Regions from separate parts of the Homo sapiens genome. Here region 2 is linked to region 1. Evidence: fine-mapped expression QTL. A gene starts in region 1. The other region holds a variant in brackets. All regions are shown on one strand. Distances are between the middles of the regions. Region 1 holds the start of UCHL1 (ubiquitin C-terminal hydrolase L1). Region 2 has its middle 27 kb from the start of UCHL1.

Evidence for each region. PIP is the estimated chance that this variant, and not a neighbour inherited with it, causes the effect.
Region 2: its variant is fine-mapped to the expression of UCHL1 in lung (TOPMed, PIP 0.95).

Annotation. Positions count from the first base shown.
Region 1 is chr4:41,252,467-41,260,803 of GRCh38, forward strand. UCHL1 (ubiquitin C-terminal hydrolase L1) reads left to right here and starts at 4,462. Exons shown (of 9, transcript NM_004181.5): 1 at 4,462-4,543; 2 at 4,649-4,660; 3 at 5,143-5,271; 4 at 8,181-8,331. The coding sequence starts at 4,511. It overlaps UCHL1-DT (UCHL1 divergent transcript), which reads right to left and starts at 4,261. Exons shown (of 3, transcript NR_102709.1): 1 at 4,093-4,261. RefSeq lists a silencer at 4,578-5,337 and an enhancer at 5,172-5,672.
Region 2 is chr4:41,279,966-41,288,302 of GRCh38, forward strand. No RefSeq gene overlaps it. Among named protein-coding and RNA genes, the nearest start is that of UCHL1, 27 kb to the left of the region's middle. RefSeq lists an enhancer at 8,191-8,337. The variant A/G (reference allele first, on the strand shown) is at 3,681.

The sequences.
Region 1 (8,337 bases):
CTGCTGCTGATCTGACAGGAGGCGGAGCTCAGGCAGTAATGTTTGCTCACCCGCCGCTCACCTCTTGCTGTGCCACCCAGTTCCTAACAGGCCACAGACCTGTACCAGTCCTCAGCCTGGGACTTGAGGACTCCTGGTATAATATAGTACAGTGGTCAAGAGTGCAGACTGTCTGTGGTCAAATTTCAGTTCTCATGACTTAAATAACCATAGGCAAAGAACTTAACCTTTCTGATCTTCATTTCTAAATGAGAATAATAATAGTAACCTACCTAATAGGTTGTTATGTTGATTAAAAGAGTTAATACACAGAAAACACAAAGAAGTAGTGCCTGGCATCCGTAAGCAATCAGTAAGTGTTAGCTATGATTATGCTGCTAAAAGCATGCTCACCATTACATGTGAAGAATTTACATAAATGTTGAACCACTCTAATTATTAAGTGCTTTCTTATATAAACTAATATTTTCATCTGACTTCTACCTGTCTGTCCTGTATTCTTAAATAATCATAAAGATTATTCTCGCCCTCTTTGTATTTTTGAGCATTTGGTATCATGTAACTCCCCTCCCCATCCCCCAAACACACACACAAACCCTTTCTCTTCTCCACATCATATACTGTCTTCTCAATTTCTTCAACCACCTTTGTTCATTATTTTGGCGCTCAGTCTCTGAAAACTCTCTAATATGTCAATGTCTCTTTTGAAGTGTGGTAGTTCGAATTTTCAGTTGAAAAGTATTTATTGAGTGTTCATTATATGCCAGGCTGGGCATCATAATCCAGTTATAGTCTGGTCAATTCTGTGAGTGGATTAGATCTTGAATATTATATTAATCTAGCCAAAGGTTAGCAAATACCTGGTTATCCTTACCACTTCCCTTTCCCATACTCGTGGTAGACATCACTAATCAATCACAGCATTTTTCCCCCTACTGGACTCAGGACTCTCCTTCAGGAACCTATGATTAAAATGAAATTGAATCTCTCACTCCTGGTATAAATAAAGATTGCACTAGCTTTATAGTCAAATTATGACACCTGAAATATTTGAATCTTTTTCTCAGGTACTGTTCACAAAGCCAGATCTAATTCATTAATGCATCTGTAAATGATTTTTTTTAAAAAATGTTTTTCCTTCTGATCTCTGTGTATTTATTTTTAAAAGGTTACAATCAAACTATTGTGTTGTTTTCACTTGATATTTTCCAAATTATTTCATACTTTTGCAATCATAGCATCAAGAAAAAAGTTAATATAAAGATTAACTGTATGGCAATAATTGACAACTGTTACTATAATATAGAGCTTTACACATATTCCTGTTACATTTTTAATAGCTTTATTGTGATACCTAAACCCACTTTTTAGTTTTTTAGTATATTCACAGGGTTATGTAATCGTCACCTAAATCCCTGTTAAATTTCATCATTTTATTTTAAACTTATTTTTTAATCCCAAAATTCTGCCATTTATTATGTATTTATTTATTTTAAGAGATGGGGTCTCACTCTGTTGCCCAGGTTGGAATGCAGTCATGCCATCACAGCTCATTGTAGCCTCGAACTCCTGGGCTCAAGCAATCCTCCCACTTTGGCCTCTCAAGTAGCTGGGACTGCAGGTACACACCACCACACCTGGCTAAGAATTCTGCCATTTAGACTGCTTGTTCTTGCTTGTATGCACGACCTCTCTTTTTCTCTGCTGTAATAAAGTGGCACCAGACAAGGTTAAAACCATTGTCAGGTGGCTACAGGTTGAGGTAGCTCCATCCAGTACCACTTTTTTTTTTAAGGTAGAATCAATTAAATAAGCTATAAAACCACCTCAACTGTGGTATCAACCAATGCCAACCCTGGCAGCATAAGAAATACAATGACAGTGTTCTACCTGTCCATCCAGTTAATAACCCCCAAAGAAAAGAAGATAAGTTCTGGCTGGCATAACTTGTTCTAAATGCATCCATCTTATTGTTTCTAAAAGTAAAAAATTATGAGTCCTAACATTTGGCTAATGACTGATATAAACTCTTCTGGCCTGCAGTTTCAGCAGTATATTCCCAATCACCCCCTACTTCTTCTTCTTCTTCTTTTTTTTTTTTTTAAAAAAGATTAGGCTTAGGTTTGTTCATATCCAGTCTCTGGCATCTCTTTGTAAGCAGGGAGTTGTTTCATTCACTGCTCTGATGCTTCCTGGCAAACAGTAGGCCATATATGTATATGAATGTGAATGAATTAATGCCTTCAACAAATATTTCTGACAGTGATTTCATGACTGCTTTTATTAGTTATTTTGGCAATCACTTATAACTGCTAACGTCTGCTTGCCGATCAGCCCTTAGCTTAAATGTCACTTCCTTCAGGACGCCTTCCTGATCCCCTCCACTAGGTTAGGTGCTCCTGATCTCTGCTCCCTTTCATACAACTCTTATGACTGATAAAAACAGCACGAGGGGGCCAGGCGCGGTGGCTCACGCCTGTAATCCCAGCACTTTGGGAGGCCGAGACGGGCGGATCACGAGGTCAGCAGATGAGACCATCCTGGCTAACACGGTGAAACCCCGTCTCTACTAAAAATACAAAAAAAATTAGCCGGGTGTGGTGGCGGGCGCCTGTAGTCCCAGCTACTCCGGAGGCTGAGGCAGGAGAATGGCGTGAACCGGGGAGGCGGAGCTTGCAGTGAGCCGAGATCGCGCCACTGCACTCCAGCTTGGGCGACAGAGCGAGACTCCGTCTCAAAACAAAACAAACAAAACAAACAAACAAAAAAACGGCATGAGGGAAATTTCCATGTTTATTGTGTTCATCTTTGTATGCCTAATTCCAAACTTTCCAAGCTCGGCACCCAGCACACAGTAGGTTCTTAATATTTGTTGAGTGAATGAATAAATGAAGTAAATTGGAAATGTAATTTGTCTTTGTCTAAAGGCAAGAACTCATTCAATATAACCTAGTCACTTGTCTTGACCTTCACCTCTTTTTTTCTTTAACAACCTTATTGAGGGAAAATTTACATACCATAAGATTCACCCATTAAGCTCCTCTTACTAATTTTTTTCTCTCTCATTTTTGTGTGTGAAGGTCATTTTCTAATGGCAAAAATGGAAAGAAAATAGAAGTAGAATGTTGTGGAATCTTAGATAAAGAATGGGCTCTTGGAGCCCAGTTTAGCAGGGTTTACTTCTCAGTTTTACTTTTCAATTGTGACCGTAAGCAAATTAACTTCTCTAGGCCTGGGATTCTGATCTGTAAAATTGCACTAATATGAGTCTCTTCACGGCTCCTCTAAGGATTAAATGAGAGACACATGCAAAGGATCCCCAAAAACAATAACTCAAAAAATGTTGATTCCCTCCCTTCCCTCTGTCATCTGTTAACCTCAACTTCCTAAATAGAAGGTCTATTCTTTTACCATCATCATTATTCTCTTCGGTGCCTATTTTTAAAAAATACTCAACCTTCTTGCTTCCTTCGCTACCTAAGTATTTCTGCAAGCCCACTTTGTTCTGCAGCTTAGCTTTCCTGGCACAATTCTTATAGATTTTGGTCCCTTTTAAAATTCATTCTTCAGCAAATGCTTTCTCTCTCCATCTTTTGACTAGAGATCATTAGAGATCACCTGAGATCATTAGAGAACAGTGGTTTCCTTGGTTGCCATTCCCTTTCTTCTTCATTGGGAGTATTCTGCGGTGAACTCAGACATTTTATTTTTCAAAGCTTCCCATTCTTTTAAAAATGCTTTTCCTTTTACAGCCTCTCGCTCAAAATCATACCCATCTTTTCCCTGGATCTGTTTTCTCAAGTCTCCAATCGCCTGCCTTCTTTGTGTCTTGTATTACCCTCACATCCCCCAGCTTTCTACTGCTCTCCCAGGACCAACCATTTCTTCCGCGGGAGTCACATTACATCAGCATTCCTAATGCAGTATCTGTTATCTACCAGATTCTGTTTTATTCTAGGTAGTCACTTAAAAACGAACCTCGGTACTGGTCTGACTTAACATGGAGGAGGAATTGTCTAAGGTTAAACGCAAACTGCTGAGAGATTTGGGGCGGGGGGCACACATTTACATTCATTCGTATTAAATATATACCTGTTGAATTTGTGCTTTTTCTCAAATGCTTCAGAGACTCGAGCTTTAGAGTAATTGGGATGGTGAAAGGATGGGTTTCCAGAAACTTCGCCCAAAATTAAAGACTCCATCAAAAGGACTGCTCCATACACTCAAGGAACACCCACCAACAAATCCCGTCTCCACAACCACCAGATTATCTCACCGGCGAGTGAGACTGCAAGGTTTGGGGGCCCGGCCGTACCACTCCGCGCTGCGCACGGGGGGTTCGTACCCATCTGGCCGCGACCGTCCGTTTCCCCCTCGCTTGGTTCTGCCCCTGCTCCCCCTGCACAGGCCTCACAGTGCGTCTGGCCGGCGCTTTATAGCTGCAGCCTGGGCGGCTCCGCTAGCTGTTTTTCGTCTTCCCTAGGCTATTTCTGCCGGGCGCTCCGCGAAGATGCAGCTCAAGCCGATGGAGATCAACCCCGAGGTGAGCGCCAGGTGCACCGCTACCCGGAGAGCGCGAGGCCGAGGGAGGGGGAGCCGAGTCGCTGATCGGTTCGGTTTTGCCTTTTTCTTTGCATTTGCCTTTCAGATGCTGAACAAAGTGAGTGGCGTCTCGCGCCGTCTCTGGCCCCCTCCCCCGCGAGCGCCGAGGCGGGGGCGCCCACCGGTTCCGGCTGCTGGCAGGGACCAAGCCGCCCGCTGCGAGCACCGGAGACGGCCGGGCTGGGGCGTGGGCTGGGCGCCTTTCCTGGGCCCCTGCATTTAGCGGGTGACTCTACGAAACCGGTCACGGGGAGACGGAGGGGGCTGCGCCCCGTGGCGAGCGAGCGCCAGGCGGAGCTCCCGAGGGCGTGGCGCGGGCAGCACAGACTCGGCTGCACGGGCTTCGCGGGCGCCACGTGTGGGCCGCGCTTTGTGCTGTGTCATTGCGCCGGCCCGGGTGGGGGTGGCAGGGCGGGACTGGGGCTCCTCCCAGGCTCGGGTGCGGGCGCGGAGGGCGCGCGCCTCCTGGCCCCGCCCCCTGGCAGGTGCCCGCGACCCGCGTGTCCCCGTGCGCCTGGCCGCCTTGTCTCCTCTCCGCAGGTGCTGTCCCGGCTGGGGGTCGCCGGCCAGTGGCGCTTCGTGGACGTGCTGGGGCTGGAAGAGGAGTCTCTGGGCTCGGTGCCAGCGCCTGCCTGCGCGCTGCTGCTGCTGTTTCCCCTCACGGCCCAGGTAGGGCGTGGGGCCCAGGATGCGCCGGCCGCCGGCAGTGCACGCCGCTCCCCAGCTTGAGTCCTCGGGGGCTCCCCGCCCCGCCCCCTCCCCTGTAGGTGATGCGGGGCGCGCCTACAAGGAAGGGAGGAGCCTGCATTTTCGTGGTACCTACTCCCTGGGCTCCTGTTCCAGCGGTGCCTGTCGCCTTCTTGCCCATCCGTCCACAATTGCCTTAAATTTGGAAGAGAGGCAGTATCTCAGTTCCATCTATCCCGTTATCCAGGGAAATCATTCATCCTACTCATGAGTTCCCTCGAACTTGGGCTTTTTCGAGCCTCCGGTTCCGGGGAATGGCTGCTGGTTTCCCTTTAAGGGCTATAACCTGTCAACTCATTGTTTGCTTCTCAGACTCCCACCTAGCTGTAGAATGGAGGGGGAAGGGCTGACCTAAATCGCAGGGAAACAATTAGGTTCGCTAATTCTCCGCCTCCATTACTTGGGTTTCTGATGGTCTTAAGGGGTTCTTCTCTCTTCTCCACTCCCACCACTTGCACACTTGGTTTTTAGCCTCTTGAATGTATTTCTTAAAGCTTAATCATTTTGTGTATGGTTTCTGTGTGGGAACCTCCTTCCTCTTCACTTATCCTTGTTCATCTCTGACCTTGTAGCTAACTGAAATAGGGGGTTATTAGCTCAGTTTTGAAAGCACCTTTGCATTTCCCTTGAAATGATTTTCCTCCTACAAGTGTGCATGGATAGATGTATCTGAAAGACAGCGTCAGATTTTTTTTTTTAAAGGATAGCTAGGATATTTGCAGTCTTGTGATGTATGGAATCCCAGTCATTAGCGCATGGCATTGTCTTATCTCCTATTGCTGTCACTTGACCGCTGATGTGGGAGTGACTGAAATTAGCTTTAGCAAAACTTGGGGCATCACTCTAAAGAGTGAGGTTAACTGAAGCACCGTCCTAAGGCTAGGTGTTCTGGAAGCATCTGTAGCCAAAATCAAGAGTATGGGAAGTTCCAAGCCTTCCTCCTAGTAAGTAAGCTAAGTATTGTGGGTAAAAACACTTATTTACAGCTAATAAGATGATCTCACTGACATGTTTTTATTGCTAAAGTCTTTTACTTGGGCTAAAAGGAAGATGCCAAATTGTTGGAAGTCGAATTAGCTTCCTGGTTGACCAAATCAGTCTCCTGTCTCCAGTTGAGCATCACACAGAGGTTTTTTATTAGAGCAACCATGATGACTCGGAGGTTTTGAGCAGCATTCAGAGGCAAGGCCTCTGGGAGGCAGTGGTGCAGCATGTTTGCCTTTAAAAGCTGACTGTTCTCCTTTTGCTGAATCTTGTTTAGAGAACATTCTAGTTTGTGTTATGTTTGAAAGAGCTCGATACTTTGTCCTTTAGTTTCAATTCAACCTATCAGATTTATCGAGCGCCTATTCTGCTACACAGAATGCCTACTGGACAAAACACTGAAGCCGATTGAAAGAAAAGTTGAGGTTTTATAGGTTGACTCCAAAGATGCTAATGTTAATTTGGAAGGCATTTAATTTTTGACTAAGGGAATGTTATGACCCCCTACATGGACCACTTCTGAAACATTAAGTGCTAGTAGACTATTTACAGAATGATTTCCATGGAAGAGCTCAAGCAGCCCTAAAGGATGGTGCTATCCCATTTTAACATTTCATCTAATTAGCCTAGAAAATGAAAAACACTTACTGGTCAATGAATACTAAGTTGAGGATCCAGTTAGATAGAAGCGAAAAAGTTCTGCTAGTTGGAGTTTAAGTTGATCTTCTGGGGTAAGAGATCTTACTCTTCTATTAGTACCAGAGAGCAAGCTTAAACTTCAGTTCATGTACAGAAATGCAAAGCTACTAGAATTGGAAATAGGTTTCTGATGGTCTGTCTGGTTTTGCTCGTTATGGGAAATCAGTGTTTCTATAGTGTTAGTACCCTACTCTTTAACTGGGAAGTCCTAACTTATTTATTATATTTTTATTTTTTAGAGACAAGGTCTCAAACTTCTGAGCTCAAGTGATCCTCCTGCCTCAGCCTCCCTAGTAGCTGGGATTATAGGTGCAAGCCACTGACCCTGGCTCAAGAAATCATAACTTCTAAGGTCTTTAAAGCTAGTTAGTGAAAAGTCCAGATAGGCTTACTAAATTACTATACAGAAAGCTAGCAGATGCTTTGAGGAAATCCGTTTCCTAGTCCGATTCATTTACCAGTCTCTATCCTCCTCCTCAAATTGCCAGTCTGTCCTCAAAGTAAACTGTTTAGCTGGCAAGGACAAGCTAGTGTCACATCTTCCTCTTGTAAAATCACAGCCCAATACCCTGGATCAGTTGTCTTTTCCTTAAAAAGAGGGCGGAGGTAATGGTTAATTTCTTTCACTTGTTCTTTTCAGCAGTTAAGGCCGTTTTTGTTTTTGAAGCGAAGTGTACTTAAGCCGAGTAGAAGTAGAACTTTAAAGAATAATGAAATGTAAACCAGCTGGTGCTCTTGTTGGGCATTCAATTGACTGAAGCTTGATTTAGGATGCCTATGTGAAATAGTTGTTAAGTGTTAAAGGGAGAAAATAATGAATTGGTTTCTTTGTTTTCTGACTTCGTGACACCATTTTGGGCTGAAAGGTTGCAGTGGTGTCTAGACACAGCCTTGGGCAGTATCCAAGGCAGTCACTGCACTGCAGCACCAGGGTGGAGTCTCCGAACCTCTCAGAGCCCCACTGGCTGGCGTGGGTGGTGTGGGAGGCAGACAGACGGGCCCTTCTCTGGGAGTCAGCCAACATCTAGAACCAGGGGTTCTGGTCACACATCCCACTGGTGTTTCCATTTAGTTGGTAGAACTCATGTGCTGCCATCTGTTCTTTGCACTTTCATTCTGAGATGTAAAAACGCTTTTTACATTCGCAGCATGAGAACTTCAGGAAAAAGCAGATTGAAGAGCTGAAGGGACAAGAAGTTAGTCCTAAAGTGTACTTCATGAAGCAGACCATTGGGAATTCCTGTGGCACAATCGGACTTATTCACGCAGTGGCCAATAATCAAGACAAACTGGGATTTGGTAGGT
Region 2 (8,337 bases), 27 kb after region 1:
ATAGGGCTACTTTATTTGTTTTTAAAAATTTTTTAATTTTCAGAGACAGGTTCTCACTGTCACCCACACTGGAGTGCAGTGGCACGGTCACAGTTTACTGTAACCTCAAATTCCTGGGCTCAACAATCCTTCCACCTTCCGCCTTCCAGGCGGCACAGCTCTGGTTGACAGCTTGGGCTATACAACCAGCTCCACCCCTTACCAGCTGGGTGCCTTGGCCGATGAACTCCCTAAGCCTCGATGTCCTCATCTGTAGAGTGAGGTCAGTATCCGCCTCATAGGATTGTTGTGAGCAGCACATGAGAACATTGTGAAGTTCTTGGGGATGTGCCTGGAATGTATCAAGTGTTATTGTTTTTACTTTTTATCACCACTTAGCTCCTTTCTTTATCTATGCTAATAGAGGGGAGTTCGGCGGGGATACATTAAAACTCCTTTTTCTCCAGTCTTAATCCCAAGGTACAAAGTGCCCTTTTCTGCTCAATGCCATACTAGACCTCATTCCCTGAGGGTAATGCCCTATTTCTTTCTTTCTTTTCTTTTTCTTTTTCTTTCTTTTTTTTTTTTTGAGACGGAGTCTCGCTCTGTCGCCCAGGCTGGAGTGCAGTGGCACATCTCGGCTCACTGCAAGCTCCGCCTCCTGGGTTCACGCCATTCTCCCGTCTCGGCCTCCCGAGTAGCTGGGACTATAGGCGCCTGCCACCAAACCCGGCTAATTTTTTGTATTTTTTCACCGTGTAAGCCAGGATGGTCTCGATCTCCTGACCTCGTGATCCGCCCGTCTCGTCATCCCAAAGTGCTGGGATTACAGGTGTGAGCCACCGCGCCCCGCGGTAATGCCCTATTTCTAAAAGAAGTTTTCCTAAAAGTTATCTTAAACCATAGTGCCCAAACCATCAATGCCTTGTTCATTGCAGTGAGACGAATGCATTTTGCCTTACATTAAAGCATGAAGAATATAAGTGTATTTACCCTCTTGAGGTTACCAATTTTTAAAAGGGAATGATATAATTTAAAATTTAAAAGCTAATTTTCTAAGGACAAGAAGTATTTTAAAAACAGATCAATAGGTTTTTGCTTTGGTTGACATAAGGTATCTCTAGTCATCAAAATAAACAACCTTTAAATGTCCAGCATTTGGATGTTTAAATCCAAACTGAGCGGCTAATATCTTGAATTAACCCATTTCACACCCAAGCACACCGACTAATACGGGAAGGCAGATGATGTATTCAAGGCTATGTGCACTATATCCAGTAGGTGGCAGCATAGGAAAACTTATGGCACTATTGTAGCTGGTAGGATGAGCCAGAAATCTTAATACCAGGAGCAGTTGGTGACTGCCCTTCTTAGGCAAGATGGAGCAGTTTGATAGCATATCCCATATCATTCTTTATTTTAGCGCCGTGTTTCAGACTGGATGAATTTGTCCAGCTACAGATTGGCTAAAGCTGGCCCTGTGAATTGCTTGTTGGTCCATTCATATTTTTGGGTAGGTTCTATTTATTTTTTCATGAAAGTAAAATGAAAGAGAGAAGCAGTAATAATTTCACAAGTTCACTATAATGAATGTCTCTTCTGCTTACGTCGAGTTAGATATTATCCCAAATATAATTGATTTTATGTAATCAATTATATTATCAGTTCTACTTCTAGTAAAACCTTGCTTTCAAATCTATCTTAACATAAGGGTTTAATATAAACCAGTTTGACTTTTCCATCAAGAAAACTGAATCTGGTTCCAACATTGACATTAATTAGTTGGGTTACATTAATCAATTCTCTTTTCTTTTTTTGGTCTCAAATGTGTGTGTGTGTGTATATATATATTTTTTGTTTGTTTGTTTTTTGTTTTGAGATGGAGTCTCACTATGTTGCCCAGGCTGAAGTGCAGTGGCGTGATCTTGGCCTACTTCAGCCTCCACCTCCTGGGTTCAAGCAATTTTCCTGCCACAGCCACACAAGTAGCTGGGATTACAGGTGTGTGCCGCCACACCCAGCTAATTTTAAGTATTTTTAGTAGAGACAGGGTTTTACTATGTTGGCCAGGATGGTCTAAAACTCCTGACCTCAAGTGATCCGCCCACCTCAGCCTCCCAAAGTGCTGGGATTATAGGCGTGAGCCACTGTATCCAGCCTCAATTATATTTTAAAATAAAAGAATTAGGTAGGCTTGAATTCTACTAAAGTCTCATATCCTATTATGTACCACAAGCTTTGAAAATGTTCTTTTTTTTTTTTTTGAGAAGATAGTAGCAGCAATGAAATAATAGTTATTATTTTCCAGGGTAACAATTTTAAGAGATAAATACCCATTTGCATACGTAAATCCTAATTAATCCCATTCCCTTGTGGTCATAATTCCAACAATGGCAATTAGATGTGGCACGTTTGGGTTGGGAACAGATCCTCAATTTAGGAGTTTTTCTATGATCTATATTTTTTTACTTAATGTAATTTGTTTCATTGTAATACACATTTGTTTCCCTTTTAGTGCTTTTTTGGGGTTCTTACAATAGAGCTGATAATCTTTTTAATGGGTGCTTTCAAAAGAAAGAGGTGATGAGATAAGGATCAGAACTGCTGAAAGACATGTGGGAAGTAGCAGTGTTTTTCTTCTAGACTCAGAACCTGGAAAGATTTTTTAAGAGTTTAAATGTGACTCAATCCTTTGTCTTATACATGAATCCTCTCTGCTTTTCTATTCAGCCATTGGGTTATTTTTGAATCCCTAGTTCTAGTAAAGCTCAAATGCGAGTGCTTCAAAGAAGTGCATTATTTATGAACCACCAAGCTGAGGACCAAAACAGGTTTTATGAGAAACTTAATTTTAACAACATAGTGTTAATTTTCCATAAGCAACTTAATTATCTATGCTAATAGAGGGGATTATGGCTTGAATACATTAAATCCGCTTTAAACTAACTTAAATATTTTAATATTATTGTTTCTGTTAGTCTAAGAGTCCTATAAGGAAGGGGCCATATGGTTGGGTGTGGTGGCTCACACCTGTAATTCCAGCACTTTGGGAGGCCAAGGCCAGAGGAACCCTTGAGCCCAGGAGTTCAAGGCCAGCCCGGGCAACATAGTGAGACCCCTATCTCTACAAAAAATGAAACACTATCTGGGTATGGTGGTGTGCAGCTGTAGTCCCAGCTACTTAGGAGGCTGAGGCAGGAGGCTCACTTGAGTTCGGGAGTTTGAGGCTGCAGTGAGCCATGATCACACCACTGAACTCCAGCCTGGGCAACAGAGTGAGACTCTGTCTCACAAAAAAAGAGTGGGGGGCATATAAGTTCAAAAGGAGTTTATAAACGATTCAGCGTCCTGATAGTGTCACTTATCACAACCAGTCTTTCTTAAAGTATGGCCTGGGGACCCATGGGGCTCCCTGAGACCTTATACAGAGTCTGTGATGTCAAAACTATTTCCATAATGATCCTAAGACATTATGTATCTTTTTCACTCTTGAATGTAGAAGTAGATAGGTGAATCAGATGTCACTATTAAGCCAGTACTTCACTTTAGATGGAAAAATGTAAAACAATGCCATTCTTCTATTTTTTTAATTGTAAAAAAATGTAGTTCTTTTTTGTAAAAAATGTGTTGTTACCATATTTATAACTTTTTTTTTTTTCGAGACAGGGTTTCACTGTGTTGCCCGGACTGGAGGGAGTGGC[A/G]TGATCACGGCTCATTGCAATCTCAACTTCCCAGGCTCAAGTGATCCTCCCACCTCAGCCTCCCAAATAGCTGGGACTACAGACTCAAGCCACCATGCCCAGCTAATTCGTGTATTTTTTTTATGGAGATGGGGTTTTGCTATATTGCCCTTGCTGGTCTCGAACTCCTGGGTTCAAGCGATCCAACCGCTTTGGTCTCTTAAAAGTGCTGGGATTACAGGCGTGAGCCACCAGACCTGGCCCCATGTTTACAATTTTTATGTTAAAGTTAATTAATAAAGATTTCAATTATTCTCAGCTTTGATTGCTAAGATGACATATATCAATAGACATAACATATTGAGGTCCTCAATAATCTTGAAGAGATAAAGGGTTTCCTGAGACCCAAAAAGTTTGAGAATTATTAGACTAAAGCCAAGTACTGAGCCAGAGATACTCCCTGCCTCTCCTGTATCTTTTTTTTTGTTTTTTTTTTTTTTTTGAGACAGAGTTTCATTCTTGTTGCCCAGGCTAGAGTGCAATGACAAGATCGTGGCTCATTGCAACCTCTGCCTCTTGGATTCAAGTGATTTTCCTGCCTCAGCCTCCCAGGTAGCTGGGATTACAGGCACCCGCCACCATGCCTGGCTAATTTTGTATTTTTAGTAGAGATGGAGTTTCACTATGTTGGTCAGGCTGGTCTCGAACTCCTGACCTCAAGTGATCCACCTGCCTCGGCCTCCCAAAGTGCTGGGATTACAGGCATGAGCCACCATGCCCGGCCTCCTCTCCTGTAGCTTTGAATGTTTGTTTTGCTGCCTACAGTTTTTACATAATTAATATAAGCTATATGAAGAATATTGTTCTCCTTTCATAAGTTTCCATGTGTCTCCATGGCCATTACTCTCATCGTTTGTAACTGCTGTTATACTCTATGATACTAATATACAATATTATAATTTAATGTAATTATTCTTTTTATAACAGTATTACATTTTTTGTTATGAAATACAGTCCAAGGTGACAGCAGGGTCAGTATCTGGTTAGGGCCCTCTCCTTACACTACAGACAGCAACCTTCTCAATATACCCTCACATGCTCTTTCTTTGGTGCCTGCAGTGGACAGAAAGAGAGAGAAAGTCCTTTGGTGTCTCTTCCCATAAAGGCGCTAATGCCACCACGATGGCCCCACCCTCATGATGTCATCTAAACTTAATCACCCCAAAGGCCCCATCTCCAAATACCATCACACTGGGGCTTAGGGCTTCAGTTGATGAATTTCAAGGGGATATAATTCAGCCCATAGCAGAAGTTCACCCTCAAAACAACCTAGTAGCACAAATTCACCTCATGCTAACTTACATATGATTGGATATATTTTATATTAAATAACACAAAACAATTTTAGGTACATGGGAGTCGTACAACAGTTGCTTCAAAAAATACATGCTTGGGGGTTGGTGATTAGGGGTGACTTTGGGATCTACGTCAGGGGCTCACCATCCTCATCAGAAATCCTTCACTCCTCCAGAGAAAGGGCAGCCACATAATCATTTGCCCAGGCCCCAAATGCTCTACCTGGGTTGTTTGATTGGCTTGAGCAAAAGGACTTTGATGTTCCTTCGGCTGAGCTCAAAGGACTGCTCAGCTGCCGTAGATTATCCCAAAGTTCTGTGTAGTCAGATTGCCTGGTGCTTTATTCCTAAGCTGCTTTTATGCCTTCCCGTCCTCACCTTGCCTGACTCCTGAGCAGCAGGGCCCACCGTTCACCTCTTGGCCAGTTCCAGCTTCAGCAAGTGCACGCTGTTAGTTGACCTTTGACTCTCAAGTCTGCCAGCCCCACAGCTGCTTCTTTTAAGAAATTTGTAATGCCCCCTTTACTCTCCTAAAATAAAATTCATAGCTAATATAACCTACCTACACATATAATGTTTACAAATCAATTTAAAGACACAAAATATGTATTTTTTTCAACCTGTAAACGCTCAGTTATTACTCCATAAGATGCATAAAGTAGGGAGAGGCTTGTATGTAAACATGAGATCCCTGAGAGAGGAACAGACACACAGCTGATGTAATCAGGGGTCACAGCAGCTCATTATTGGCCATGGGAAGTTTCCAAAATGGTGAACCATCTTGGCAAAATTCCAAACACAATTATATTACATTCTGCCCTTGATTTACCCCATAATTGCACTTATGAAAACTTCAGTGCAAAAACTCTGTGAAAAATATTTTATATATAGGATCAGAAAATTATACACAGATTTTTCATCTACAAGAGTCCCCATGGGGACATTCAAAAGCTGTGTAAGACGCAGCACAAATTCCTCATTGTATGAGACTGCCTTCTGGTGACTCGGGCCCTGAACACTAAATGCCAGTGGGACCTACCCTACTATGATTACAACAACAAAATATTTGCCCACACATTTCCAAAACAGCCCTTAGGGGTTGGCACTACCACCCCTAAGGACCACTTAGCTAGACTGGAGAATCTTTAATAACTAATCTGTGCTTGGCAGAATTCTAAAATGGTCCCCAAGATTCCCAGCCCCTGGTGCACAGACACCTTCTCCCAGGTATTTAATCCGACACTAATCTAGATGCTGCACTGAAGGGATTTTGCAGGTGTAATTAAGGCTCCAAATAAATGGACATTAAGATAGAGAGATTATACTCAGTTGGCCTGACCCAGTCCTTAAAAAGGACTGGGCTCTTTCTGGCAAGGGAACGACTGGCAGCCTTGAGGGGCTAAGACTGGTCTGCAACTGACCATCAGCAAGGAAATGAGGATGTAAGTTCTACAACCGCAAGGACTTGAACTTGACCAACTGTCCCATATAAGCCTGGAAACTGATTCTTCCCCCAGAGCTTTAGAAAGGGACATAGCCCAGCCAACTCCTTAATTTCAACTTTTAAGTTTCTAAGAAGAGAACCCAGTCACTCTGTGCTAGACTTCTAACCTGCAGAATTATGCTCTAATGAAGGAGTGTTGATTTAAGCCTCTAAGTTTGTGGTAATTTGTTATGCAGCAACAGAAAACTCACACATAATTTAATTTTATTTATTTTTTTTTAAGAGACAGGGTCTCCCTGTATTGTCCAGGCTGTTCTCGAACTTCTGGCCTCAAGCAATCTTCCCACCTTGGCTTCCCAAAGTGCTGGGACTGCAGGTTTGAGTCACTGTACCTGGTCTCACACATAATTTAATAAGGCAATGCAATGTGTTCACTAAAACACTGGGCATCCCCCTTGTTGCCCTCTGTCAACCACCCATTCTCTGTCCCTACCACTGACCCTCATGGTTGGACTGGGAAGAAGTCATATTGATTCTTCTCAGTTCCTTGCCCTCTCTATCTCTCTGAATATGAGGGTGAAAAGCATACACTGAAATTCCAAAAACTGACCACACTCCCTGATTCTAGATCCTCCCTGAGGATGTTGAAGGTCATCTGGGTTCTCTGGTTCAGCCCACAGCCTATGTTTACCTCATTTATAACCTCTGCTTATGCTTTTCATCATGAGGCACTGTGCTGGTGAAACCTAAACAGGAAAAGTAATGTGTAACCTTAACTATTTATTGAAATCTGATCCGCATGTTTTACTCATTGCTGCAGAAGGTCACATAAATCTAATCTGTATGAAAACAATGAAAAAATGTTCTTCAGCATGCATGGGACTGAAATACTTCACATTTTGTGTGCAGGAAAGAATCCCAGGCCCTCAGGTATGACCCATTGCCTACTTCCCTCTGGGACTATTTTTTTCTGTGTTCTCCCACCCCCCACCGCCCTTTGCAGGCATCAGCCACCAGAAATGCCACCAACAGAGTCAGTTCACTCTGGAAGGCTCTCTTTTTTGTTCCTTTTGGAAACACGAAAGCCACATTTGAGAGCTTTATGATAATTATTATTTTAAAATTTAAAGCCCATAAAATCATCTTTGAAATAAAGAACAACAGTTGGCTCAGAGACCAGGCTTAGTTTTTCTACTTCATGTGCCTATATTTGCTTCCGTGGGATGCTATGGACCCATGCCCCTTTTTGTAAAGACATGTGGTGCCAGTATAGAGGCCATAAGTTTACTATTATTTGTGCAATTGACTTATTTCATGAATTTGCCCCCAGACTGTCTTCTGATATTGTTTACCCAATCACAAAAGGGGCCTTCAAATATTTATAGCATTTCCTTCTTTTTTGCCTTACAATATACTCTGGATTTCTCAAACTTTTGAAATCAGCATGCATTGTACATTAATTTTCTTCCTAATCTTTCCCTCTGATTATATATCTCCCCCATTTTCTTAATCGCTTTGACACAGGATTCTTTTGGTGCCACTTTGCCAGACAAAAATCTCCACCGTCAGCAGTTCCTCTGCTGGGGCTTCACATGGGCCTGCTGGGCTCACCTCACCCACTCTGCTCAGCAGGCTGCGCTCTGCTCATGCTACTGGCCCAGATCGCACGCCTGCTGTGGCTCTGTGCCCAGCCTGTGGCTGGTTAAGGCGTGCGGTGACCAGCTTCTGCCTTGGGTGCCGGCGTCTGGACAAGGGAGATGTGGTGGTACCCAAAAACTCGGAGATGCCAGCAACTGCAGAGCCCCCAAGGGGTGTTACAGCTTTTGGTTGGGGAGTCCCAAGGTCTGAGCCCCCAGGAAGTGTCACAGCTTGTTCGGTC